2 separate regions of the Homo sapiens genome follow, and region 2 is linked to region 1. Evidence: fine-mapped expression QTL. A gene starts in region 1. The other region holds a variant in brackets. All regions are shown on one strand. Distances are from middle to middle. Region 1 holds the start of GABPB1-IT1 (GABPB1 intronic transcript). Region 2 overlaps GABPB1 (GA binding protein transcription factor subunit beta 1).

Region 1 (16,648 bases):
TTCATAATTACTCACCTTCCTCCACAAATATGCTGTGACCTGTGAGGGAAAACAGAAGAAATCGATGGTGGAAAAATCTGACAACAGGAGTCCAGTAAAATATAAAATAAGTGATTGATGTCAAAGTGCAGACTGTATCTAGTGCATACAGGAGTTAAGCTAAACGTCTCAGACTGTTTGGGTTGCTGTAACAAAATACCATAAACTGGGTAGCTTACAAACAACAGAAAGTTTTTTTTTTTTTTTTTTTGTAGAGATGGGAGTCTCACTATGGTGCCAAGGCTGGTAGTGAACCACCTCACCCAGCCCAGGAGGCTGAGAAGTCCAAAATAAGGCACTGGCAGATTCAGTATCTGGTAAGGGCCAGCTTCTAGACATCTGTCTTTTTGCTGTAACCTCATGTGGAAGAAAGAGCTAACAAGCTGTCTGGAGTCTTTTTTTTTTTTTTTGAGACAGAGTCTCACTCTGTCGCCCAGGCTGGAGTGCAGTGGCGCCATCTCGGCTCACTGCAACCTCCGCCCCCCCCAGGTTCAAGCGATTCTCCTGCCTCCACCTCCTGAGTAGCTGGGATTACAGGCACCTGCCACTGTGCCCGGCTAATTTTTGTATTTTTAGTAGAGATGGGGTTTCACCATCTTGGCCAAACTGGTCTTGTACTCCTGACCTCCTGATCCACCCACCTCAGCCTCCCAAAGTGCTGGGATTACAAGCATGACCCACTGCACCCGGTCTGGAGTCTCTTTTTTAAGAGCACTAATCCCACTCCTGAGGGCTCTACCCACCTGAGCTAATCACCTCCCAAAGGCCCCATCTCCTAATGCCATCATCTTGGAGGTTAAGATTTCAACATGAATTATGGGGAGACACAAGCTTTTAGACCATAGCACTTAGGGCAAGAAACTGAGGGTCACTATGAATGGAACAAGTAAAGGAACACAGGAAGAATAATCACATTGGCAAAGATCACAGAGTTCACACAAGTCATTTAGGGCACAAAGGAAATTTTTTAGATCATTCACTTACACACCATACAAATTTTTTTTATTTTTTATTATTAAAAATAATAATAAATATGGAACACATCATAAATTTATGTGTCATCCTTGTGCAGGGACCATGAAAATCTTCTCTGCATCGTTCCAATTTTAGTATATGTGCTGCTGAAGCAAGCACTATACTACTAATTATTTTTTCCTCTGTTTGGATACATGGGAAGTGCTGTGGAAATAAAGGATTCCAGGAGTCAGAAGGGGCTATACATCCAAAACCGTTATCATAATGAGAAGAATTGACCTAATTCCAAAGTTCAGTACTGTAATTTTACAACCACCTCAGTCTCTACATGCACAGAATGGGTGCATTAAAGACAGGTATCACAGTGTCATCTACCCACCTCCTTTAAAGAATCACTACTATAGGCTGGGCGCAGTGGCTTATACCTGTAATCTCAGCACTTTGGGAGGCCAAGGTGGGCAGATCACTTGAAGTCAGAAGTTGGAGACCAGCCTAGCCAACATGGCTAAACCCCGTCTCTACTAAAAATACAAAAATTAGCTGGGCATGGTGGCGGGCACCTGTAACTGCAGCTACTTGGGAGAATCACTTGAACCCGGGAGGCAGAGGTTACAGTGAGCCTAGATCACACCACTGCACTCCAGCCTGGGTGACAGAGTGAAACTCCATCTGGAAAAAAAAAAAAAGAATCACTACTATAGTAAACCACCATAGTAAAAGTATCTTATCCCTCAAGTGTAATGAGACATAAACAAGCTAATTGGGTTATAGGAATGCTCAAGCCTCTTTCAGAAAAAGATTCTACATTATGTAATATAATCACAGCATTAGTGGGTTTAAGATATTCTTTAAAATAGAATCACAGTCAGGACCAACAGGAGTAGTTTTTTAAATTTTTTTTGGAGACAGAATCTTGCTCTGTCACCCAGGCTGCAGTACAGTGGCACAATCTCCGCTCACTACAACCTCCGCCTCCCAGACTAAAGGAATACTCCCACCTCGGCCTCCCGAGTAGCCGAGACACAAGCACACACCACGTCTGGCTAATTTTTGTATTTTTAGTAGGGACGGCGTTTCACCATGTTGGCCAGGCTGGTCTCGAATTCTTGACCTCAAGTGATCCGCCCGCCTCGGCCTCCCAAAGTGCTGGGATTACAGGCATGAGACACTGAGCCCGGCCATTTTTTTTTTTTTAAACTTTGAAACTTTTTGGCTGGGCACAGTGGCTCACACCTGTAATTGCTGCACTTTGGGAGGCCGAGGCAGGCAGATCACAAGGTCAAGAGATCAAGACCATCCTGACCAACATGGTGAAACCACGTTTCTACTAAAAATGCAAAAATTAGCTGGGCGTCGTGGCGCGCACCTGTAGTCCCAGCTACTCGGGAGGCTGAGGCAGAAGAATCGCTTGAACCCAGGAGGCGCAGATTGCACTGAGCTAAGATCGTGCCACTGCATTCCAGCTTGGCGACAGAGTGAGACTCCATCTCAAAAAAAAAATTTTTTTTAAATCATAGTATCAGTATGCTGAGTATTTTTTAAATCAAAGGAGATGGAGGTGGACATTTTCCATTATTTCATTTTAATTGACTTTAATTTACCATGCACTATAAAACTATAAAATACCATGAAAAGATGTTTTAATATTATAAAATAGGACTCAAAATTAATATTTTATAGGTTCCTTATCTTCAATTCCAAAAATCCAAAAAACTTCTGAAACCCAAAATAACTCATCTTGTGGTAAACCTTACCCAAACTGATATGAAGCTATTTACAGTCTTTATCCTATTTAGTGCGAACATTCATACATTTTGTTGCAGAAACAGTAACACTTTTGAAGGGGGATATTGCACTGGACTCTATTGGAAGGCTACACATTACTACCTTGCCCATATAAAAAAAAAATTCCTAATTCCATAACCTATTAGACCCTAAGAGTTTGAATGGTGGACTGTGATCCTATAATTGCTAACATTTATTGAGCTATTAACTGTTATGTTTCAGGTACTGTTCTGTTCACTTTATATGAAATAACATTTAATCTTTCCAATCATCATGAGCTAAGTATTATAATAATCCACATTTTACAAAGAAGGAAACTGAGCCACGGAGAGATTAAGTAAACTGCCTAAAATCACACAGCTAGAGTATGACTAACTGGGATGACACTGGGATGAATATTTAAAATATTACACATAAGAGTAACAACACACAACAAAATAATTGATTATGGTAGGGTGGTAGGAGTGATATGTTTCTCTACTCAATTGATATTACTTCTAGAATAAGGAATCAAACAAAAAATTACAAAACACTACATGCATTTACAAATTCTCATGTACAATTTCTACAAACTTGCTTAAAATGCAGAGTATAAAACCCAAATTTCTCAGCTTATGCTAACACATTTAATTTTTTATTGAAAAGTTACATCTTAATATCTTAATTACAACATGATAGATAATTTATATTCATTGTAGAAGTTAGAAAATTTGGATAAGCAAAAAGAAAACAATCACCTGTAAAACTACACTCAGAAATAACCATTTAACAATTTGGCACATATCCTTCCAGACATAATATATTTTTGGGTTTTTTTACCAAAATGGAATCATGTTTTTAAATTTATTTTTTCTCACTTACATATACCAAGACATCCTTTCATGTCTTTATATTATTCTATCATCATTTTCATGGCTGAGAAGGCAGTACCCCACTGTAGGGATGGACCCTAACAATCACTGTGAAACATTTAGGTTGTTTACAATTTTACCATATAATGATCAATAGTACTGGCTCTAGAGTCACACTGGTTGGATTCAAGTCCTGGCCCTAACACTTAACTAACTCAGGTACCTTGAGCAAGCAACCTCATTTCTCTATGCCTGTTTTTTCTTCTGAAAAGCAGAAATAGTACTACCCACTTCATATGATTACCGTGGGGCTTAAAGGCATTAATACACAGCTTTTATAATCAACAATACTGCATCTAGTATGCTCACAATTAAATATTCACACACATCTTTACTACATCAAAAAAAAAATTCTTTAAAGGGAATTTCCATGTCAGAAGGTATGCCAATTTTTAAAGCTGCTGAATCTACCAAATTACAGTGTGGTTTAAAGCCCTTCATTAAATAGCCTTCTCACTTAATACTCATTTCTCTTTATCCAGGAAGGCAAAAACTATTATCAAGTTAACCAGTTTGTTTCACTCAATTAGCTTTTTGTTCTTCCACCTGTAAACCTCGGCATATTTAATAAAACCTCAAAGTTTATAGGTAACTTGAAGACACCTAGCTCAAATTCTCCTTCAGTACGATTCCTCTACTCTAGAATCCCCAATTTGTCAGTGAACAGGAACAGCCTACCACCCAAAACAACTCATTCTATTTTCACAATTTTGAGGAAATTTATCTTGAAAGAGAATTGAAATCTGCTTCTTTTAAACTTCCACCCACTGACCCTAGTTCCTTCTGGTCAAGTCAAATCTGATCCTTCTGCATGACAGAACTCCAAATCCTTAAAAGTGGCTGTTACTTCTTAAAAGAAGCTCCTCTTCTTTAGGTCAAACATCCCATTTTTTCAACTTTTTCTCATTTCCATTTCTCTCATGATCAAGGTCCTCGTTTATGCTCTACAGATAAGTGATTTTGACACTTAGGTGTCTACCACCTTGGAAATGAGAAAAATTAAGGTCCGTTCCTACCCTACTTAAGTTTGGGCCTCTGTGTGGCTTTTTATTAGCTCTCCAGATGATTCTGATAAAGTCTGAGAATGAATACAAGGTCTCACTTATGATAGTATGCTACCCAAAAAGCCAACACAATACCCCAAATATAATATAACTAGTACACAGTAAAGTGGGGCTAACACCTTGCTCTGTCAATAAGCTGTTCTACCAACTTCAGAATTATTCACAGATGGGTGTGTTGGCTGACGCCTATAATCCCAACACTTGGGAGGCCAAGGTGGGAGGATCACTTGAGTCCAGAAGTTTGAGACCAGCCTGGGCAACACAGTGAGATCTCGTCTCTACAAAAAATTAAAAAATTAGCCAGACATGTTGGCAGGTACCTGTAGTCCCAACTACTCAGGAGGCTGAGGCAGAGGCAGGATCGCTCGAGCCTGAAAGGTGGAGCTTGCAGTGAAGTATAATCGCACCACTGCACTAAGCCTGGGTAACAGAGAAAGCAAGACCCTGTCAAAGAAAGAAGAGGTGCAAAGGGGAAAACAGGGAGGGAAGGAGAGAGAGGGAGAGGGACAGAGGGAGAAGGAGAGAGGAAAGAGGGAGGGAGGGAGGGAGGGAGGGAGGGAGACAGAAAGGTGCACTAGCCCACCAACTGAACTGACAGCTGATTGCACCAAAGCATCTTCTTTGTATAGAGCACTGTGATGTCAACACTGAGAAAAAACACAGGCCCTAATACTGATCTCATCTAGTGCTAGATTTACCTTCTAGAAAGCATGATGGAACAAACATCTTCAGAAAACTATAATACTAATTGTAGCTATCCCAATGTAGGCACATCAGAGCTATAGAAACATTGTGATTACTAGCTGGAAACCATACTAGTTGTTGGGGAGGAGAGGGGAGCAGAGGGATGACACTAAGGAAACTAAGTTGCTCTCAACTTCAAGATTTTGTGTGGGTTTGTTTTTCAACGTTTGCAAAGTCAGAAGAGATGGAGGCCATCAGTGAGTTCATCTGAACTCAGGCTACTTGCAAACAGAGACTGGGTAACTGCCTCGTGCACCCTCAAAAATAAATTCATGATGCAAAACTTCATGTAATTTCTGAATTTCTGAATTCCTCATGACGTGCACTTTACCTGTTACCTGTTAATATTTCTGGTACTGAGGGGCAAAAGAAAAAAGTAAAAAAAAATTCATGGTACAGGAGATGTGGTCCATTACAATGACACAATGTTATGGGAAAAAACACACTAAAACCAAGCATACTTTTTTTTTTTTTTTTGAGACAGAGTTTCGCTCCTGTTGCCCAAGCTGGAATGCAATGGCGCTATCTTGGCTTATTGCAACCTTTGCCTCTCTGGCTCAAGCGATTCTCCTGCCTCAGCCTCCCGAGTAGCTGGGATTACAAGCGCGCACCACCACGCCCAGCTAATTTTTTGTATTTTTAGTAGAAATGGGGTTTCACCGCGTTAGCCAGGCTGGTCTCAAACTCTTGACCTCAGGTGATCGGCCCGCCTCCACCTCCCCAAGTGCTGGGACTGCAGGCGTGAGCCACTGTGCCTGGCCAAACCAAGTGAACTTAACCAAGATCCAATCTATTTTCGTTTGAACAGCAAACATTAAAAGTACACCTGGTATTTTCTAACAATTACACGAAGAATGACCAGATGCTTCCTGTTGATGGAACAGTAGAGAACTATAGACTGACAGATTCAGACTACAGTTCACAGAAACAACTGGAAACAAACTTAGCTTCCTTTCAAAGCCATTAAAATACGGCCTTAAATTTTTATGCATTAATCAATTAAGTATAATTGTCTCCCAATAAGTATAATTGTCTCCCAACCTAGAAAACCCAGAATGATTCAGAGAGACAAAGAACTCTAAGGATATGTCTCTGCAAACTGTTCGTTTCACCAAAGGATTCACTGCAGAATTAATTTTCTGTAAAATCTGTACCTCCTATAATTTTCAACATGTTCTATCTTTAAAGATAACATTTACACAAGTGTTGATAGCATATGTGGAATTCACGTGTTACTTGTGTAAATCATTATAAATATGTAATAGAATTAAATGTTTTAATCACTTAAGAATATCTTCGAATGTTCCTGAGTCTCCGAGATCATAGGCAGATTATGCAGTCTTCATCTGTGATTTTGTTTAGTCACCTAAATTCCAACTTTTAAAAAAGTTAGAGCCCAGTAAAAAAAGTATGGGAATCAATCTTATTCAGTCTTGTTAAAATGTGTCTTGCATAACAGCTTGATTTGACTTGTATGGTGAAAGCACGGTAAGAATGACACATTTCTGTTTTTTGGTTTTTTTTTTAAAAAAGTATGAGTGTACAGTGGAGTGTTCCAGAGGTTACATGGTGTGCTAACCACAACAGTCTGACGTAGATCTGAGAATCTTCTATTAAACCAGGCATTAAAAAGATTTGCAAAAATGCAAGATGTCACTCTTATCATCTATGTTAACATGTAATGGATTTATTTTTTGTTTTTGGAAAAAAAAAACCAAGAGAAAAGAAAATAAAGTCATCTTTAGTTTCCTTAAATTCAAAGTCTGAGCCTGAAAATGGAAGTATCAAAGCTGATGGTTATACGTCAGTGAGAAAAAAATTTAAACCAAGCTGGGTGGGTCTTTACATGAGATAAACTATCTACAGGAAAGAATGACCACTAACTTCTGCATAATAAATGAGAGTGGATCTTTTAATTCTGAGATGGCAATGTACTTTACAAGGACCATTTACAGACTACATCAAACCTTTTTCTAGATAAAAAACGTACTTCAGTAACTTGCCTGAATTGAGAGAGCAAAACAGTCCGGAGAGAAAACTTAAAATGTTTCCACATTATCAAGCCCCCTTCAGAAGTACTGTGGTCTCGGCCCCTCCTTTGAACAGATGTCCGCTCGCCACAGTCCAATCAGGTTTAAAGCAAGAGTATTTGTACTGAAAACAAGCTTAAAGTGGGAAGACACACACAAAGCAGGCCTGTATCATTCCTTTGGTTTCAGTTTTCACGATGCACCCTTGAGGCTAGGCACGCTGATTCAACACACTTGGAGAGCTTCACCGAAACACACTAAACACACAGTGATGAACTGTGCCCTGGCAGAGATGACCTGGCAAAATTCTCAACTTCTTCCCTGAGGCAGTGCACCCGCAGTTCTCGGCGGCGAAGTCTTTGGGGCAGAAGTCCCGAGCCTTCAGAACGGCAGGCTTCTCCCCCTCAGGACTCCAGTCCCCGCGGCCAAGGCTGTCGCTGCGGGGGCCCCGCGCGGGACTGGCCAGGCTCTTCCATTAACCCTGTCTGGTCCGGCCGATCCCGCCGCGACCCGAGCGCCTCTCGGCCCCGCAGCACAGGGCGCCCAGGACCCGCCACCCTCGCCGCCCGTTCCCCTCTCCGGAGAGCCCGGCGGGGCCGTCAGGCTGCCGAGACAAAGGGTACCGCGGCGCCAGAGGCCGAGGCCCAGCCGCGCCTGCCTTCCTCTTTCTCCCGCCCACTGCCAACCTCCAGTCGCCCGCAGAACCTCCGCTGCCTCGGCGCGACCCCATCGCCACCCCGGGGCTGCCGCTCGGGACCGGCAAGCCGGGTAGCCGCGAGGCGGCCGCGGCATGCTAGGGCCGAGGAGGGGGCGGCGGCCGCCACCATGTCTGCCCGCCCCTCCCAGAAGCAGTGTGCCCAGCGGACAAAGCGCAGCGGCGGCGCGGGCGCCCAGGCCGACCCCGCCGACCCCCGCGGAATAAGCGGGGCCAGGAGCCCCGGAAACCCGGCGCCTTAATGCAATAAACAGGAAATCGCGGGGATGATCTGGGTTCCGGGGGAAGTGGAATTATTTTTTACCAGCGAAGAGATCAACTTCCACATCCGGTGGTAACAGGGCCCTACACAGACCCGCACTGACCTGGAAAAGCTTCGGGAGCGGCGACGGGAAGGCAGCAGGAGGTGGTGCGGGGACCCGAGGCGCCTCGTACCCGGCCGGGCTGACGCGGCCCCGCTACACACAAAGCGCTTCAGCTGCACAGGGCGCTATTTTCCGAAAATGCCGCGTCTGGTCGGCGCCCAAAATCCCCACCGAAAAGTCCCCCGTGCTGCGCGCGGAGGGACACATGGTGTGCGAGTGAGTCAAGCTCCCAGCATCCCTCCCGGACCCGGCCCTCTTCAGCTCATCGCCCGAGGATTTTCCGCCTCTGCCCTCGTCGGCAGATCCTGCTCCTACCCACTCCCTAGCTGTGTTCCCGCGGGGAGAGAGGGGAAAGAGGGTCTGATTTTTTAACGAAGGGAAAGAAAATATGCCATTTCTAGCGCTTCAGCCACACAAAGAAAGCGGCGGAATGATCCGCTCTCGGCGACCGCAAGTCCCGGCTCGCCCGGCGCCTGCGCGGCAGCGGGGGTGGGAGCTGCGGACGGCCATGTGCGCGGCGGAGAGGCCGGGTGGCCACCGAACCTTCCCGCCTGTTCTGCGGTGGGTAGGAGTTTGGAAACTAATGTTCCTGTGCTAACCTTCGTGTCTCTGTGACATGACTGTTGAAAGACGGAGAGTGCGGAATCTTTGGAGTTTTAAGCTTGCCAACTGTGCGGCCTAGCAGAATCCTGGGAGACGGAAGGACAGCCAAGAGGCTAGGATTTACCTTTAAGTGTCCCTAGATTCAACTAGGCAGACTGGGACGGGAGACGCTGTGAAGGTACCAGGGAAGGAACGAGTGAGGTTCCTTTTCCACTTTTTCATAAACTCAACAGTCAGGTTCATGACGAAGATATAGATATTTCTGTAGATTTTTTCCCCAACATTCTAATTATGCCTCATGTTTCGTAGATCCTAGTAACTGCTTGGATTACTGCCACCTCAGAGGTAGAGATCTGTTTTTCCGTGGCTGGAATGCCAAAAATTTTGTTGTATTTTATTAAGAAAGTAGCAAAAGTTTGGAGATTTGCAAAGTTAAAAAAAAAAAAAGCATTATGAACTTAATCTAGATGTGATTTGCTAAGGAACTTAATATATTGATATGTTTTTCACAGGGGCGTCTGGGCATGGCTTTCCCAACCTAGTAACTGCAACTTTTAGCATCCTACATGTAGGACTTGGGAATATGTGAGACAGCGCCAAGAATTTAATCCAGGAGAATTGACAAGCTTAAATGAAATCCATATTGCCCACTGATTTTGTGCAGCTTCAGATAAGTAATCTTTCTCCACTTAGCCTTTTGTAACAATTGATGTAATAAAGGTTTGTAGTCTTTGTGTAATTTATTAAAGCATTGTGCCTAAAATAGAAAAAAAGCATAGGAACCATAGGCTGTGTTTTCTTTTGATTTAATATTTTCATTTCTTCAGTTAATAGAAATTTGCCAAATTCTGATGTTTTTCTGTAGCATTATTTGAATGAGCATTGTTTATTTGAGTGAACATTCAGCTAATTGTTACAGAATCGTTGCCCCCATTAATCTTAGGCTGTAGAATGTAGACAAGTAAATAGGCATCATCAGTATGATGAGAGTGAAGCTACTTAATACTGTGGAATCAAATAAAGGAGGAACCCCTTACTAAACCAAGAGGGAGGAATAAAATGGAATGGGACTAGAGAAGCAATTAGCTTTAATAAGGGTATTATGGAAGACTTTCTAGATGAGAAGCAGTAAGTACAGATGTTTGGAGGCAAACACTAGAGAGATTGTTGGGTAAAGAAGACAATGCTGGAGGTCTACTTGTGAAGGCCTTGAATGCTATGTGCAGAAGTCAGCTTCTGAGAACCAGGAAGAAGATATTGAAAGATTTTAAGTAGAAGAATCATAGGATTGAATTCATTTTAGACAGATCACTGTTACACAAAAATTTGAGGCAAACAGAAGAGTTTGGAGTAAACAGTAGGCTGTGAGCCAGTAATGACTTGGACTGAGTTGGTAGCAGGTAGGTGTGAAGAAAATAAAGTGGTTATTGGGAGATTTGGTTAACTGAAAATGACTGAGGGAGATAGATGTCAGGTGACTCCCAAGTGAGTTGGTGGAGCAGCTAGGAGGATAGTAATGTCTTCACTGAGATTAGAAACAAAATAAGAGAATATATGTTAGGGAAGGAAGAAGTCTTTGTTTTGACCATGTAAAATTTGAAGTGCATGTGAGCCAACCAGTCATATATGTGTAGTGTGCAATTAGATATTCATTCAACACTGTTGGAAGAGCACCTACTCTGTGCCTGGTACTGTTCTACACACTGAAATAGGTAAAGCAGCAGCAAAACAAATGGTTCCTACTCCTGTTTTTTAGAGGGAAACAGCATATAAACAAGTTTTAAAAATAAGAGGAGAGAGAATATCCCATAAATTCGTGAAGAAGGCTGGGTGCAGTGGCTCATGCCAGTAATCCCAGCAGTTTGGGAGGCCGAGGTGGGTGGATCTCCTGAGTTCAGGAGTTAAAGAGCAGCCTGGCCAACATGGCAAAACCCCGTCTCTACTGAAAAAAATTAGCTGGGCATGGTGGCACGCTCCTGTAATTCCAGCTACTCCGGAGGCTGAGGCAGGAGAGTAGCTTGAACCCAGGACACGGAGGCTGCAGTGAGCCGAGATTGCGCCACTGCACTCCAGCCTGGGCGACTGAACGAGACTCCGCCTCAAAAAAAAAGAGTTTGTGAGGAAAATTAAAAGCTGATTGGATAAAGTGTTACTCTGGGGAAAAGAGAGCAAACTTTTGGTGGTTGGTTGATCAGAGATGGCCTCACTGAGAAGGTATTAGAAAGGACAAGAACAGTGTGAGACCAAAGGGAATAGCTGGGCAAAGGCCCTAAGGTGAAAAATTTGTTGTGTTTAGGGAATAGCAAGGTCAGTGTATCCGAAATCTAGTGACCAAAAGAAGGAATGATAGGAGGTGAAGTCTTCAGCCTCAATAAGAAGGTGAAGTGCACTGGAAGCCATTGAAGGATTTAAGAAATGGAGTATCTGGCCGGGCGCGGTGGCTCACGCCTGTAATCCCAGCACTTTGGGAGGCCGAGGTGGGAGGATCAAGAGGTCAGGAGATGGAGACCATCCTGGCTAACATGGTGAAACCCCGTCTCTATTCAAAATAAAAAATTTTTTTAAAAATTAGCCAGGCGTGGTGGCGGGCGCCTGTAGTCCCAGCTACTCGGGAGGCTGAGGCAGGATAATGGCGTGAACCCAGGAGGCAGGGCTTGCAGTGAGCCGAGATCGTGCCACTGCACTCCAGCCTGGGCGACAGAGCGAGACTCCGTCTCAAAAAAAAAAAAAAAAAAAAAAGAAATGGAGTATCATGGACTAGGATAGTAGCAGTAGAGATGAGGGAAGTGGATGGATCCAAAAAGCTGACCTATCTTGCTTACCAATTAAATGAGGAAAGGGAGGAATCAATAGTGATGCCTAGGTTTGGGGCATGTTGTCTAGGTGGAATTAATTTTAATTACACTTTTAACCCCTAGCATATCCAAATATTATTTCACATGTGATCAACATAAAAAATTACTAAATATTAAAAATATTTTACATTATCTTTCTCATAACTAAGCATTTGAAATCTGGTGTGTATTTTATACTTATAGCATATCTCAGTACTTGATTTCATAAAATTTCCAGCTGAAAAAATAGATTCACGTACCCAAGTCGTTCCAAGCATACTTAAAAGTTTTACGGTAATCGAATCGTGTATATTTTTAAATTTTATTTTAAATTAAAGTTAGGATTATGAATTCAGTTCCTAAATTAGCCTCATTTCACTTCTGCATTTCAAGTGGGACAAGTTATTACCATATTGGACAATGCAGTCTAGTGAAGTAGAGGATAGTGGAAAGTCAGACTTAAAAAGTTGTTTAGAACCAGCTCTGGAAGGCCTTGGATGTCAGATTAAAGGACTGAGATTTTACCCTTGAGTCAGGCAGAATAATGGATGGTTTTTGAACTAAGGAGTGACACAAGGTTGTGCTTATGACTAGAAGGAGGCCACTAGGTGGCCAGCTGGTGAGTCAGGACACCCTTCAGTTGCTTTGACTTCAGCCCTGTGGATTCAAAGTCTGATTTTTGTCAGCGCTCTAGAGCAGTCTCACCAAAAGTGTGGTCCACAAGGCAGTGCCAGTCTGTAAGCCCTTTGTTACACATCCATGTCAAGGCATTTACAGAAAGTAAGAATTTAGAAACTTATAGCAGTTTAACAGACTAATTTTATTTCTGTGGGTCTAATAAAAATTTGAGGGATTGTACTTTGCATATTCTTTATTTCCCTTTTTTTGTTTGTTTTTTGTGTTCGAGATGGGAGTCTTTTTCTGTCGCCAGGCTGGAGTGCAGTGGTGCAGTCTCGGCTCACTGCAACCTCTGCCTCCTGGGTTCAAGCGATTCTCCTGCCTCAGCCTCCCAAATAGCTGGGATTACAGGTGTGCACCACCACATCCAGCTAATTTTTGTATTTTCAGTAGAGACGGGGTTTCACCATGTTGGCCAGGATGGTCTTCATTGCCTGACCTTGTGATCCGCCTGCCTCAGCCTCCCAAAGTGCTGGGATTACAGGCGTAAGCCACCGTGCCCGGCCCTTTTTTCCTTTTTAGTTTATTTTTTTCTTTTTTGAGACAGAGTTTCGCTCTTATTGCCCAGGCTGGAGTGCAATGGTGCGATCTTGGCTCACCGCAACCTCTGCCTCCTGAGTTGAAGCGATACTCCTACCTCAGCCTCCCAAGTAGCTGGGATTACAAGCATGCACCACCATACCCTGCTAATTTTGTATTTTTAGTAGAGACGGGTTTCTCCATGTTGGTCAGGCTGGTCTCGAACTCCCAACCTCAGGTGATCTACCTGCCTTGGCCTCCCAAAGCGCTGGGATTACAGGTGTGAGCCACTGCACCCGGCCGTTTTTTTCTTTTTCTAATAATTTTTATCATATTACATAAAAGTACCTATGGTCTCACAGATGAAGGGAGTCAGAAGAACCAAACTCCCAGAAGACATATAAATCTAAATGCCTTTTTTACTTTAGAGTGAAAACTGTAATAGCTAAATTATAATGGACATCTGCTCATTTTCTCCCTCCATGTAGACATGGAAAGCTACACGGAAATAACCGAGTTTATAGTAGCTACCATATATTAAACGTTTCCTGTATGCCAGCCACTGTGCAAAGCATATTATATATATTGTCTCATTTAATCCTCACAACTCTGTAAAATAAGTATTGTTTGCCCCATTTTTCCAATGAAGAAACCGAGGCTAAAATAGGTTGAATAACTTACCTAAATTCACCATCCTCAAAGGTGTTAAAGACAGGATTCCAGTACAGGTCTCTCATTTCCTTCATGATTAGGAATACTACTTTGAAATGAGAGACCTGTACTGTATCTGTTAATTCCAAATTCCCTGGCATAAAGACTCAGTACATTGTTTAAAGAGAATGCATGAAGTTAACTGCATTACCTTTTGGAGGGTTCATTTGTGAATTTGGGGCCAAAGTAAGGGGAGTTACTGGTATTCTAATAGCATCAAACAAATGAATTCATTTCATCTTTTGGGGAGGTGGAGGGAATAAGGTCTCACCTTGTCGCCCATGCAGGCTGGAAGGCCGTGATGTGATCTCAGCTCACTGCAGCCTCAACCTGGGCTCAAGCGATCCTCCCACCTCAGCCTCCTGAGTAGCTGGGACTACAGGTGCACACCACCACGCCCAGCTCATTTTTGTATGTTTTGTAGAGACTGTGTTTTGCCACGTTGCCCAGGCTATTCTCAAACTCCTGAGCTCAAGTGATCCTCCCACCTCAGCCTCCCAAAGTGCTGGGATTACAGATGTAATCCACCACACCCAGCCAAATGCATTCATGTCTACAATAGAAATACATCTCTTTGCTGCTATCTTGAATTTGTAGACTCCCACAAATCAATAAAAAAGAAGACATCCAATAAAAAAATGGGTAGAGGCCAGGCAGTGGCTAACACCTGTAATCCAAGCACTTTAGGAGGCCCAGGCAGGCAGATCACTTGAGGTCAGAAGTTCAAGACCAGCCTGGCCAACATGACAAAACCCTGTCTCTACTAAAAATATAAAAATTAGCCAGACGTAGTGGCACGTACCTGTAATCACAACTACTCGGGAGGCTGAGACAGGAGAATTGCTTGAACCCAGGAGGCAGAAGTTGCAGTGAGCCAAGATCGTGCCACTGCACTCCAGCCTGGGCGACAAAGCAAGACTCCATCTCAAAAAAAAAAAAAAAAAAAAAGGTAGAAACTTAAACAGTCACCTCACAAAAAAGGGTATCTAAATATTAGTTTCTTAAAAAATATAAAAGGGGCGTGTAGATGGCCGATAAACATGTAAAAGATACTCAACTAATTTAATCATTAGAGAAATGCAAATTAAAACCTAAATGATATTTTAATCTCACATCCAACAGAATGGCTAAAATGGAAAACCCAGAAAATGCCAGATGTTGGTCAAGAGTTGGAGTAACTGAAACTACACAGCTGCTGGAAATGTATATTGGTATAACCACTTTGGAAAATGGGAAGTTCAACAAACAGGCAAACCAATCTAGATTTAGGGATATATGTTTAGGTAGTAAAAGTATAAAGAAAAGAAATAGTTAGCTTTGCAGGGAGTAGTGCTTGGGAGGTAATAGGTGCTTCTGGAGTGCTGTTGATGTTCTGTTCCTAAGTAGGGTGCTATGGCTTGAGTTTGGTTTGTCTGACCCTACCAAGTCTCATGTTAAAATTTCATCCCCAGTGTTGGAGGTGAGGCCTGGTGGGAAGGGTTGTGGGAGTGGATTTCTCATGAGTGGCTTCGTATTCTGTAAGGAGTGAGTTCATTAAGAGACTGGCACCTCCTCTCTCCTTTCTCTCGCCATGTGATCTCTGCATATGTCATCTCCTGTCTGCCTTCCACCGTGAGCAGCCTGAAGCCCTCACTGGAAGCAGATACTGCTACCATGCTTCTTGTACAGCCTGCAAAACCGTGAGCCAAATAAGCCGAACATTCTAAGACACTGGGATTACATGAGTGTTAGCACTCTATGACTTAATGAGAAGTAGGTTTTTTGGAGAAAAATGTACTTTCAGTATGTATATTATATATTTCATGGTTATTTTTAAAACTCGTGAGCAATGCTGGATACACACTACCAACTATTACTTCCCTGACTGAGCCAATTTTTCTGTAAATGCATCACAAATGTGAAAGATAAGGTAGGCCTGAATTCTGGGGAATGACAATGGTGAAGGAAAGGCGAGACAGGTGCAAAAGACACTGCAGAACTCAGGCTCAAAATCTCATCCTTAACTCCTTCCCTCATCCCACCATGTTGAATCAGATGTCAATAGCAATTTTATATGGCATTTTTTAAGCTTGCAAAAAGTTATAAACAGAAAATGTTCATTTTATCACTCCATCACAGACGAAAAACATGAAATTAAGCTAGGAAACATGTTCAGGTGATTAGAGTAGATAGAACATAGACTAAAAACCAGTGAACTTATAAAAAAAAATCCCATGATGTGGACAAAAAAAAAGAACTTGTGGCTCCTCACTCCAACTCCTGTGACTCTCTCACCTTACCCCCACTGCCTTCAAGTTTTTTGTAGAAAGAGAAATTTTGTATGGATTGAGTTTAAGATGATGCCAGAATATCAAGGTAGAATTATTAAACACACAAAAGCTAAGGTTTGGTACTCTGAAAAAAGGTCAGAATTGGTGATAGAAAATTAGAAGTTACCCATCCATAGAAGGGTAATAAAGCCATGAGAGTGAAGGAAACCAGTGAGAGAGAATATTGAGAAAAGTACTGAAGGACAGAGAAGGAGAAGCGAAGGAGGAAAGCAAATCAGCATTTATTGAGCATCTGTTAAACTGTATGGCAGCTGCTCTACATTTACTATCTCATTTATTCCTTTCCATTTCCAAGGTAGCCAATTTTAGCCTCACTTGATAGACTGGCTTTGTAGACTCAAAAAG
Region 2 (12,324 bases), 67 kb before region 1:
GAAACTGGGCAGGATATGTGAGCTATTTGCTTGTGTGTAAACATCAATTTTCTAACTGCCCTGAGCCAAATATGACAAGTATGATTTTGTTTTTATAAATAAAGTTTTATTGAAATACAGCCACACCCACCCATTTTCAAATTGTCTATGGCTGCTTTCACTACAATGGCAGAATTGAGTAGTTGACAGACTGTAGGGCCCACAAAGCCAAAAATATTTGGTACCTGGCCATTTATGAAAAAAAACTTTGCCTTCTCCAGCCTTAGAAAAAAGAGATATAGACTGGGTGCTGGGCATGCAGTGGCTCATGCCTGTAATCCTAGTATTTTGGAAGGCCAAGGCAGGTGGATTGCTTGAGCCTAGGAGTGAGAGACTAGCCTGGGCAACAGGGCAAAACCTCATCTCAAAATCCTGACCTCAAGTGATCCTCCCACTTCAGTCTCCCAAAGTGCTGGGATTACAGGCATGAATTACCATGCCCAGCCACAAAACCTTATCTCTACAAAAAAATACAAAAATTGGCTGGGCATGGTGGTGTAGCCTGTAGTCCCAGCTACTCAAGAGGCTGTGAGGTGGGAGGATTGCTTGAGCCCAGGGAGGTCAAGGCTGCAGTGAACTGTGATTGCACCACTGCACTCCAGCCTAGGCAACACAGTGAGACCCTGTCTCAAAAAATAAATAAATAAATACAAACATACATACATACATAAAAACACTAATTTAAAAAAAGAGAGAGAAGAGATATGACCTGGATATGGTGACTTATGCCAGTAATCTCAACTCTTCAGGAGGCTGAGGTGGGAGGATCACTTGAGGCCAGGAGTCCAAGACCAGCCTGGGCAACATAGCAAGACACCCTCTCTATGAAAATAAAAATAAAAATAAACTTAGCCGGGTATAGCGGTCCCAGCTGCTTGGGAGGCTGAGGTGGGAAGCTTGCTTGAGCCCAGGAGTTTGAGGTTGCAGTGAGCCATGATTGCACCACTGCACTTCTGCCTGGGTGACAAAGTGAGACCCTGCCTTAAAAAAGAAAAAAAAAAAAAAACAGAGACGGATGTGACTATAAACATTTTTAAATTGTGGCAGATCAGGAAAGATAGCCATAAAAAAAAAAGATTGAAAAGCTTTGCATCAAATAAAACATTTTATAAAGTTTACAGAAATCAGTTTTTAAGAGAGCACTAAGGATCTCAAATCTACCACCAGTTAAGGACACAAATATTTCATAAAAATAAAATTTACAGCCGTGCGCAGTGGCTCATGCCTATAATCCCAGCACTCTGGGGGGCTGAAGCGGATGGATCACCTGAGGTCAGGAGTTCGAGATCAGCCTGGCCAACCCGGTAAAACCCCGTCTCTACCAAAAATACAAGAATTACCCAGGCATGGTGATGCATGCCTGTAATCCCAGCTACTTAGGAGACTGAGGCAGGAGAATCACTTGAACCTAGGAGGCGGAGGTTGCAGTGAGCTGAGATCGCAGCACTGCATTCCAGCCTGAGCAACAGGGACTCTATCTAAAAAAATAAAATAAAATTTACTAATAAACATTTATCTCTAACCTCCATGGCAAAGAAAACATAAAGGTATTTCCTGAAGTCACACAATAAAGTAAGTAATAGAAATCTGTTACTCCTAATACACTAAATACATTTCTTACACATGTACAAAGATTAATTTCAATTCAGAATAGTCTAACGTTTATTTTTGGAAATCTGTAAATAACACTCTTCCTCCAAAAATATCTTCAATGCGGTAATAAATGGAAGATAAAATTATATACATTATTGCAATTTGGTATTTTATTCATACCTTTCCCTCCAAAAAAAAAAACCTATTTTATTTCCTATATTGCCATATGCAGATGTAAAGCCCCACAAAATTTACAATACACTTTCTACAATTTAAAGTAATTTTTCCAGAGACTCTTGGCAAACCTCTCCATTGTTAGTTGGGAAACTGTAAACATAAATTTTTAGCACCTTATTGTTTTTTTTTTTTCTTTTGTCTCACTCTGTCACCCAGGCTGGAGTGCAATGGCATAATCTCGGCTCACTGCAACCTCCATCTCCCGGGTTCAAGCAACTCTCCTGCCTCAACCTCCTGAGTAGCTGTGACTACAGGTGCGTGCCACCACACCCAGCTAATTTTTGTATTTTTTAGTAGAGATGGGGTTTTGCCATGTTGGCCAGGCTGGTCTCGAACTCCTGACCTCAGGTGATCCACCCACCTTGGCCTCCCAAAGTGCTGGGATTACAGGTGTAGGCCACCGCACCCAGCCAACTCTTAGCACTTTCTTTATGGACAGTCACTCTGGTCATTGCAGTCACAGATACATGGAGAAAACTCAAACATTAGATTTTGTATAGAGTTAATTTTTAAATTTCTTTAAGTTTCTCAATCTCAGCATCACTGATATTTTTGGGCCACACAGTTCTTTATTGTGGGAGGCTGTCTTGTGCATCGTAGGATGTCTACCCAGCCTCTACCCATTACATGTCAGTGGAATGCCACTAGTCATGACAACCAAATATATCTCCTGACGCTGCTTTAGAGAAACTTTGAAAGTTAATGGCCAAGCTGTCCCTTAGGAGTATAAAAGTCTCCCCCCAAGATAACCCCATTGGCCACCTAAGAAAATAAATGCAAAATAACGACTTCATGTATTATAAGGAAATTATTACCTGGTTTGGTGAAAACATTGGAGGTCATCTCTTCATTCTATATCTCCAGCCTACCACTACCTGTATACTCACTGTATGCTTCCAGGTTTCTCTGAAATAGCCCTAAGAGGTCATGCAACCTTGGCTTGAACATTTCTAGTGATGGAGAATAAGATTTCCATTACCAGAAAGCTCTAATTACTAAAATCAAAACAAAGCAAGCAAACAAAAATCACTGTTCTTCATACCAAGCTAAAACTGAATCTCCCTAAAGCTCCATCTCCTTGGCCCTAGTTACTTTATATACCTCTCAATTCATACTTCCCTGTTATTTGCAATTATTTTCCCTGGTCTCTCAAAAGACTGTAAGAAAGAAATCAGGCTGAACTTTGAGGGAAACAGCAATGCTTACTGGTCATTAGGTAAATAAAGGTATAGGCTGCACATTCACTGTTTAAAAATATAATCTGTTGAATTAAATAAGCTTACATTTAATAAAAATTCAAGTAATTTTAAAATAATACTTTATTAGATAGTTAAAGCGAAGTACATGACAATTTTTTTACCTTATGTGTCTGAAAAAGATCATCTGACATATCAGAAAAACAACAAAAATTATTAAATAATAAGTATACTGATACTATTCAATGGAAAAATTGTTAGTTTGTGAATAAGAACTTCAACATCCTACACATCACTTTAAATCTTGAAGAAATAAAACAACCCAACATCAATATTTAAAGTCATAATTTTACCAAATATTCCGGTTTAACCAATAACCAGATTTTTTAAACTCAATAATATATTTGTGGTGTGGTGAAAGATGTACCAGTCTTATATTTACATGAATTTAGGAAGGGTATTTTCTCATTGTCTTTAGTTTGACTTATGTTGTCTTTTAGTGACTTATTTTAAAAATCTCCTTTCTATAACAAGAACCTTTACAAAAAATTACTAAATATTCACCAAGTTTACTACAAACACGTATCAGATATAAATATTGTATGACTATGCTGACTTTTTCAATTCTCACAAAAACCCGAAAATGGAGACATTATTATTATTCTAAATTCCAGTTTGGGACACAATAAAACTGAAACTCAGAAAGATAAGATTCCTTGCCTCAATGCTAACAGAGCAAGAGGTGGGATTCCAACTCAGTTCATTTGATTTCAAGTTCAGTGGCTGCAGTTGTTCTTTCAAAGTTATTCAAGTATAACTTTGTTTTCATTTGATATAACTTATTATCAAGTTCATGGAACAAAATTTATTTACAGTCAGTCAAGAAAAAAACCTGTGAAGCAACTATGGTTTTGTTACACCTACAAACTGGTTTACGCTTACAAATTACTTTGGGAGAGGGGAAAAAATGATGAATCCTATGAACAGCTAGTCTAAATTCA[T/C]TTACTTGCCTTGAAATAAGCAATTATCTACTGCTTTTAAAAAATAACCCATTTGACAAACATCAACCTCCTTTAAGAGGACCCCTAGCCCAATTAGGCATTTGAGTTTCAGTTTTGAACAACAAAAAAAAAATTTTAGCCAATATATACTGGTATTTTCCTTTAGTGACGTGTAAGAATGGTGTGTGTAAGTTTAAAACATAAAGGATGAAGTGGAAGAACCAAAGACATTCCAGTGTTATCAAGATGACAGACTGTTATAAACAAATTCTTCACTCACTCATTCATTCATTCAATATTTATTTATTGAGGGCTTGCTATATGTATAAGGCAAAAATAAACAAAATGAAAATACTACGCACTTTCATTCTGTATCAAAACAATACTGTCAGTAATAAATATAAAAGACAAAAAAAATTGAATTTATTTTGGATGACTGCGGCAAAGCACACCGGGTAAAAGACTCCTTACTTCTATTTCTGCAGATTCCACCCGGTTTTCAATTATTTCGATACATTGTCTCTTAGCTGGTGGTTCTTCACTTATAACAGTTTCTTCAGCAATGTCTGTTGCTGGTACTGTTAATACTAAAATGAAAAAAAAATTATGTATTACTTCATTTTCAGAGAGATTTATTAGAAATAAAACTAGTCTTGACATTGTTGATGCTACTCATCTAAAATAACTACATTCCAAAACAATAATTCCAAATCATTGATTTGCTTTTTATGAGACTATCCATATTTGTCTTTTTTATTACCTTCTTGCTTTTTTACTGAAATCTACTTATTAAAGTACCTACAAATATTTTTTTAATTATATAGATAATATATTCATTCATGACTCAAAACATCAAAATATTTAACGAGCATATTTTGAGAGGCCTCATGCCCACCCCTGCTAACAGATGATCATTTTATTAATTTATTATGTATTATCCTTATATTAATTTGTTTAAAAATTAGTATACATTCTCATTTTCCTTTCTTACATAAAAGGTAGCATCTATACAATAGATATATTGTTCTGCATCTGCTTTTTTCACTCCAAATACTTATAATATCTTACATCACTACATAGAGAGCTTCTGTTTATTTAGCTGCATAATATCCACTAAGTGCATATTCCATTATGAGCACTGATAGTTCATAAACATTGCTTGTTTTTGTATTGTACTGTTGGGCTTTTTCTCAATTTTTAGTAGCTCTTTATATAAATGCAATTATATAGAGAGGCTGTCCTTGCTTTGCACAGCACTACAGGAACATAAAAATGACTGTGCAAGCTGAAACCATGCGAAGCCATTTTAATAATCACAATGGGGAAAATTATAATTGTTCCACGGCCTTTAAAATTTTTTGCCAAAACATGAAAAACTCTCTTAGTGACAGTTATAAATGTAAATAAAAATTTAAAAATAGTAAAACTAATATTTATTTAGTACAATGTAATTTAAAACATTAGAAATATTGAGAATTTGGGTTTTACTTCTTTTTTATTCATGACATAAATTACCTCAGGAAAAAATGAGAATTTAAATCTGTTTATTAGACTGTCTGTAAAGTCTACATAATTCACATGTAAACTATATATTTTTAATTCAGGAAGGCTTTAGAAGTTTTTTTTAAATATTCAGTAGAACTTTCTCATGGTTATTCTTTTCCAGAGTTTTCCTTATTCTTCTTCCCTCTGCCCCATCAACATAAACTTTAGAAGCCATTTGGCTAATTACAGAAAAAAACTTGGTATTTGTTATGGGCTGAATGGCACTCCCACTCCCCAAATTCACATGTTGAAGTCCTAACCCCCAGTACCTCAAAGTGTGACTCTATTTGGAGATAGGGTCCTTAAACAGATAATTAAGGTAAAATGAGATAGGCCCTAATCCAGTACTACTGGTGTCCTTACAGGAAGAGGAGATTAGGACACAGATAACACAAATACTGAGGTAGACCATGTGAGGACAGGCCACAAGACGGCCATCTGCAAACCAAGGAGAGCAGCCTCAGAAGAAACCAAACCTGCCCAACACCTTGATCTCGCACTTTTAGCCTTCAGAGCTGTGAGAAATCATTAGTCTGTATAATGATACGGGTTTTGGAAACAATGTTATGTCTGCTTGATACAAATATTTTTAAAGTTTTCTTCTTTTCTGAAAATTAGAATTAGTTCTTTAATGCTTTGTGAAAGCATCTGACCCTAATCCAAATTTCAGACCAGCTATCAGCAGAAGATTTCAGCAGAGTGGGACAGAATGGCCTCCAGGCTTCAGAGGTCAAGGGTTTCCTCTCCTACTGCTACAGCAACAAACTCCTTTCTTGAAATCTGGTCTCTGTTCAATGCCATGCCTCCTCTGTCACTCAAAACCAAACCTGGTTTAGGCGAAGTTCTACCTCAAGCCCTGCCCTTCACTGGCCATGAAAGGCACACGCTCTACAATCCTACTCATTTTCTTTCTTTCTTTATTTTTATGGAGACAGGGTCTCGCTCTGTCATCCACACTGGAGTGCAATGGTGCAATCATAGTTCACTGCAGCCTCAAACTCCTGGGTCCAAGCGATCTTCCTGCCTCAGCCTTCCAAGTAGCTGGGACTACAGGCTCACACTATCATACCTGGCTAATTTCGTCATTTTTATTTTTGTAGAGATGAGTATCATTGTGTTGCTAAGACTGGTCTTGAACTCCTGGCCTCAAGCAATCATCCCACCTTAGCATTCCAAAGTGCTGGGATTATGGGCATGAGCCACCATACTACTAGCCCTAGTCATTTTCTCAAAGATTATGTGTGGACACTTCTTTTAGGGGGAGACAAGGTACAGGGCAATGCTTACTTAGGCACTTTCTACAGCTTCTCTCTGCCTCAGTATTCATGCCCTATTCTATCTCAGTCCTGCATGCAGCACTTCCTACTGAGTCTGGGGCCCTATCCTTCTGAGAGAGCATGTTTATTGCTGAGCTTAACCCCTTTTCTTTCCTTGATGCACCAGTGTGGATTTCTATGAGAGTCCTCTTGCCCTGGCTGTAATGGCTTCAGATGCTTTTGGCGGCACTTAAAAATGTGGAATTCTGAGGTTTTTCTCAGCCTTTTAGTTTCACTGAAAATGTAGCTGAGACTTTTGTTTCATCTTGTTAGCCTTTGTGGTTTCCAAAAGGAGAAAAATGTTAGAATTCACAATAAAGCTGCTAAAATGTGCTACCATATTCCTACTACAAGTCCTAAGTCCACCTTTTTTTTTTTCTTTTTCTGAGAAAGAGTTTCTCTCTGTTGCCCAGGCTGGAATGCAGTGGCATGATAATGGCTCACTGCAGCTTCAACCTCCTGGGCTCTAGCAATTCTCCCACTCCAGGCTCCCAAGTAGCTGCGACTATCAGCAAATGTCACCATGCCTAGCTAATTTTGAATATTTTTTTTAGACATGGGGTCTCACTATGTTGCCCAGGCTCCAACTTCTTTTTAAGTAGCTTTTTCTTATATGGTATTTTTAAAAGCTCACATGGTAATTGAATTGCATTAAATGATCTAGGAAACTACTGTCCAATGCTGATTTGAATTATTTATTTTGGATATTATTTGTGTTGACATTTAAGCTCATTTTTCAACCAGAATACTTTGGGGCCAATTTCTCTTTCCACCAGTATATACTCAGAGAAAGCAAGCTAATTTGAATTTTAATTAGCCTAAGCAAATAAAATTAGGTAATTAAGTCTATTGCAAAGGGTTATACAAATATAACTCAAGGCAAAAATACATTCTTTGGAACACATACCACAATTTCCTGAGAATTAAAAATAAACACAATCTTTTTGGACTGCAGGGAAGACTTAAAGAAAATAAAAATTAAAAAAAAAAAACATACAAACTTTATATAAATGTCTACTACTAACCTTGTTGTCCATCTGGCATGGTCACAATGATGGGCTGACCAATTCCACTGGTTGGAATAGAGTGCAAATTTCCAAGCTGAATTCCATCTGTAACTATTGTGATGACTTGCTGACCCCCTGAACTAACTACTTGCTGAATGGCACCATCCACAGATTCTGCAGTAACTACTTCTTCTGTGGCCACTACTGGAAAAAAAAAAAAGAAAACTCAGCAAACATATGTAACGGTATGAATAGAAACCTATTTTTGCTTTGTCTGCTACTTTTGCTTTCTATGCTTCTTTCTTTTCTTTTTTCTTTTTTAAATAGAGATAGGGTCTCACTCTGATGCCCAGGCTGGAGGGTAGTGGCACAATCATGGCTCACTGCATCCTTAACTCCTGCACTCACGTAATCCTCTTGAATCAGCCTCCCAAGTAGCTGAGACTGCAGGTATGTACCACCATACCTGACTAGTTTTATTTTTTTTAGGGATGGGGTCTTGCTATGTTGGCCAGGCTGGTCTCAAACTCCTGGCCTCAAGCAAGCCTCCTGCCTTGACCTCCCAAAGTGCTGAGAATTACAAACATGAGCCACCACACCTGGTCCCCTGCTTCTTTCTTACCCAGGAAAACTTGTACATGGTTTTAAAACTCAGTCGCCAGAGGTGTTGGAGATATCTATGTAACCAGTTGATTACAAGTCTCTCATAATTTACAATACATCAGTTCCAACTATCTTTACATGTGAGTGGTTAAACAATTTCTCATTTGGTTGTATGAGGTACAAAATTTAGATCTAATATCATGACAAAGGTTATATCTGTTTCGTAAAACCTCACAATTCAGTCGGGTGCTGGTGGCTCAGGTCTGTAATCCCAGCACTTTGAGAGGCTGAGGCGGGAGGATCACTTGAGGTCAGGAGTTCGGGACTAGCCTGGCCAACATGGCAAAACCCTGTCTCTACTAAAAATACAAAAATTAGCTGGGACTGGTGGTGCATGCCTATAACCCCAGCTACTCAGGAGGCTGAGGCAGGAGAATTATTTGAACCCAGGAGGCAGAGGTTGCAATGAGAAGAGATCATGCCACTGCCCTCTACACTGGGCAACAAAACAAGACCCTGTCTCAAAAAAAAAAAAAAATCCACAATTCATAAGATGAATTTGAATATGATTATACTCCATTTACATTTATGTGTGAGTTGACATACAGAATAAAGAGTATTCTCTTTTTGGATTAAGTGAGCAAGGATTTGCCTTGATAATAAGTGGCATACAGATGTGGTACTATGTGATAGTAAATAGTGTATGTTAACATTTCCACAAATAAAATCCCCAAATATGCTCTTAATAATTTATGAAAGCCTTAGAGAGGATTCTGGCAGCTCAAGCAGCACCTGTGGCCTTGTCTGGGTAGAGAAATCACAAGTTAATACTGCCAAAATCCTTTCTCACAGGCAATCCTACACCCAACTACTGATCCCAAAAGACATGTAGAAGAATATACATGGTAGCTTTATTCATACTAGTAAAAAACTACAAACAACGCAGATATTCTTTGATAATAAATTAACAATGGTAGAGTCAAACACAGCAATTTGACTATATGCAAAACATGGATGAACCTGACAAAAAACAAAACTGAGTGATGTAAACCAGACACAAAAGAATATGTACTGTCTACCTTCCATTTATGAACTGAGCAATGTTTACACAATGTTTACAATTATCCTATGTAAACCCTTTGTGATAATTCCTCAAACTGTACACTTATAATCTATAAACATTTCTGTACATTAAACCTCACTTCAATAAGAAAGCATCAAAAGGAATGATAGTAATGGATTACTATCCATTGAATTTTTTTTTTTTTTGAGACGAAATCTCACTCTGTCACCCAGGTTGGAGAGCAGTGGCGTGATCTCAGCTCACTGCAACATCCGCCTCCCGAGTTCAAGCGATTCTTCTGCCTCAGCCTCCCAAGTAACTGGGAATACAGGTGTGTGCCACCACGCCTGGTAATTTTTTTTTTTTTTTTGTATTTTTAGTAGAGACGGGTTACACCATATTGGCCAGGCTGGTCTTGAACTCCTGACCTTGTGATCCGCCTGCCTTGGCCTCCCAAAGTGCTAGGATTACAGGCGTAAGCCACCACGCCCAGCCTGAATTTTAAAAAATCTTTCTATCTGGCTCATGCCTATAATACCAGCACTCCAGGAGGCCGAGGCAGGATGATCACTTGAGCCCAGGAGTTCAAGACCAGCCTGGGTAACACAGTGAAAAACTGTCTACAAAAAATTTAAAAATTAGCCAGGTTTGGTGTTTTACACCTGTAGTCTCAGCTACTTGGGAGGCTAGGGTGGGAAGATCCCTTGAGCCTGGGAGGTTGAGGCTGCAGTGAGCAGTGATCACATCACTGCACTCCAGCCTGGGTGACAGAGTGAGACTCTGTCTCAAAAAAAAAAAAAAAAAATTCTATCTATAATAATACCTCATAAAAAGGAGAGAAAGGAGGAAATGGGAAAGATATTCCTGATAGAAAGACATCTAGTTAACATTTAAAAAATGACAAGTTAAGATAAATCATTGCGGCCGGGCGCGGTGGCTCATGCCTGTAATCCCAGCACTTTGGGAGGCCAAGGCGGGCGGGTCAGGAGATCGAGACCACATTGAAACCCCGTCTCTACTGAAAATACAAAAAATTAGCCGGGCGCGGTGGTGGGCGCCTCTAGTCCCAGCTACTCGGGAGGCTGAGGCAGGAGAACGGTGTGAACCCGGGAGGCGGAGCTTGCAAGTGAGCTGAGATCACGCCATTGCACTCCAGCCTGGGCGACAGAGTGAGACTCCATCTCAAAAAAAAAAAAAAAAAAAAAAAGATAAATCATTGTAACTTCTAATGTAATAATTCATTCAAGCAAGGATCGGTAGTGGGTGCTAAAAGCATTGATAAAATCTTTTGGGGAAACAGGATATTCAAATGTTCTCAAAGTATCCCACCAAAGATTACTATTAGTTGCAAAGGGGAAAATCTACCTGAAAAGACCCGGCAGTCATCATTCTACCAAGTGGTCATTATCAGGATGGGCTGATATTATGAGCCTCCTTACGTGATACACTGGGAGGTTACAAAAATTCACTGGTGTTCTTCCTGGAAATGTCTGAACTAAATCTGACTATACACGACATTTGGAGGACAACTTGAAAATGGACCATATGTCAGATAATTTTTTTTAATTAATGTTGATGTTTTTAGAAAATAAAATGGAGCTGTGGATATGTAGAAGGCCATCCTTATTCTTGAGAGATACATGCCAAAGTAAAGGTGAAGTATCATGATGTCTCCAGCCTACTTTCATATAACTTAGCAAAATAAAAGTGTGTATATGTGTGTGTGTGTGTGTGTGTGTACATGCACACATGTGTCAGAGAACATATGGGCATGCCAAGATGTTAACAGCTGGTGAATACAGGTGAAAGTTATACAGGTTCATCCTCCAATTTTTCTGTGGGTTTGAAAACTGTCTACATATAAAAAAAAAATTATAACTAGTTCAAAAAGAGGAATGACATTAAAAATTATTTCTAAATGGCATGGTTTTTAATGTATTTACACATTACAAAAGTGCAATTACAAAAAGTGTAATTTTACAAAAAGTGTAATTAAATAAAACCACTCTCTACTAAAATCAAGCTACCATCCATATACACAGTTGCTCTGAAATATGCTGAGTTTCTATCAACTCACAGTATGGCATCATGGATATCAGTGATCACAGGATTTACTAAGACAGAAAGGCCATAAATATAGGAACTGCTTTTTTTTTAAGGCAGGAAAAATACTAGGAAACTAGTTTTCAAGATGTACTCAACAGGCCTGGCTTCAACTCTGTTACTGTGTTACTTAGTAATCAAGGATCACAATACAAACCACAGAACACTCAAAATGCAAACAACCTTTGTTTTGAGCTCTCTTGTAATTTTTGTTTACCTTAAACTATAATTAGGTTTTATCACCAAGCACTTAAGAAAATTTCAGGAAGATAATTACAAAATGAAATGTAGGACATAAAATAGTAATATATTCAACAGAGCTACTACTAGGATTTTCAAACGCATTAAGTATTGCTTTGATTTTTTCAAAAACTATCCATATGAAAAAGAAATATTCACTTGAACTGAATGCTAACTACAGATAGTAAATATTTTAAAGCATAATCATATGTAAGAAATTTCTAAGATCACACACAAGGCACAATTCAAGAACTTTCATCTTTGCACTATTTGCAATGACTGTTATTAAAATAATAGAGTTCTTGCCTTTCATCTAAAAAGCTTTCTTTTTAAGTTGTGCTATGGTAAGATATTTAAGAAAAATTAAAAGGAAACAAATTA

The links. PIP is the estimated chance that this variant, and not a neighbour inherited with it, causes the effect.
Region 2: its variant is fine-mapped to the expression of GABPB1-IT1 in visceral fat (GTEx, PIP 0.96).

What each region holds. Positions count from the first base shown.
Region 1 is chr15:50,346,357-50,363,004 of GRCh38, forward strand. It overlaps GABPB1-IT1 (GABPB1 intronic transcript), which reads right to left and starts at 8,523. Exons shown (of 1, transcript NR_026891.1): 1 at 2,580-8,523. It overlaps GABPB1 (GA binding protein transcription factor subunit beta 1), which reads right to left and starts at 8,842. Exons shown (of 9, transcript NM_016654.5): 1 at 8,629-8,842. GABPB1-AS1 (GABPB1 antisense RNA 1) reads left to right here and starts at 7,818. Exons shown (of 1, transcript NR_024490.1): 1 at 7,818-11,956. MIR4712 (microRNA 4712) reads left to right here and starts at 13,973; the gene lies at 13,973-14,054. It also overlaps the pseudogene RNU6-94P. RefSeq lists enhancers at 7,826-7,885, 8,624-9,247, 9,316-9,395 and silencers at 8,016-8,225, 8,236-8,485, 9,066-9,115.
Region 2 is chr15:50,281,531-50,293,854 of GRCh38, forward strand. It overlaps GABPB1 (GA binding protein transcription factor subunit beta 1), which reads right to left. Exons shown (of 9, transcript NM_016654.5): 7 at 7,953-8,138; 8 at 4,538-4,653. Among named protein-coding and RNA genes, the nearest start is that of HDC, 22 kb to the left of the region's middle. The variant T/C (reference allele first, on the strand shown) is at 4,067.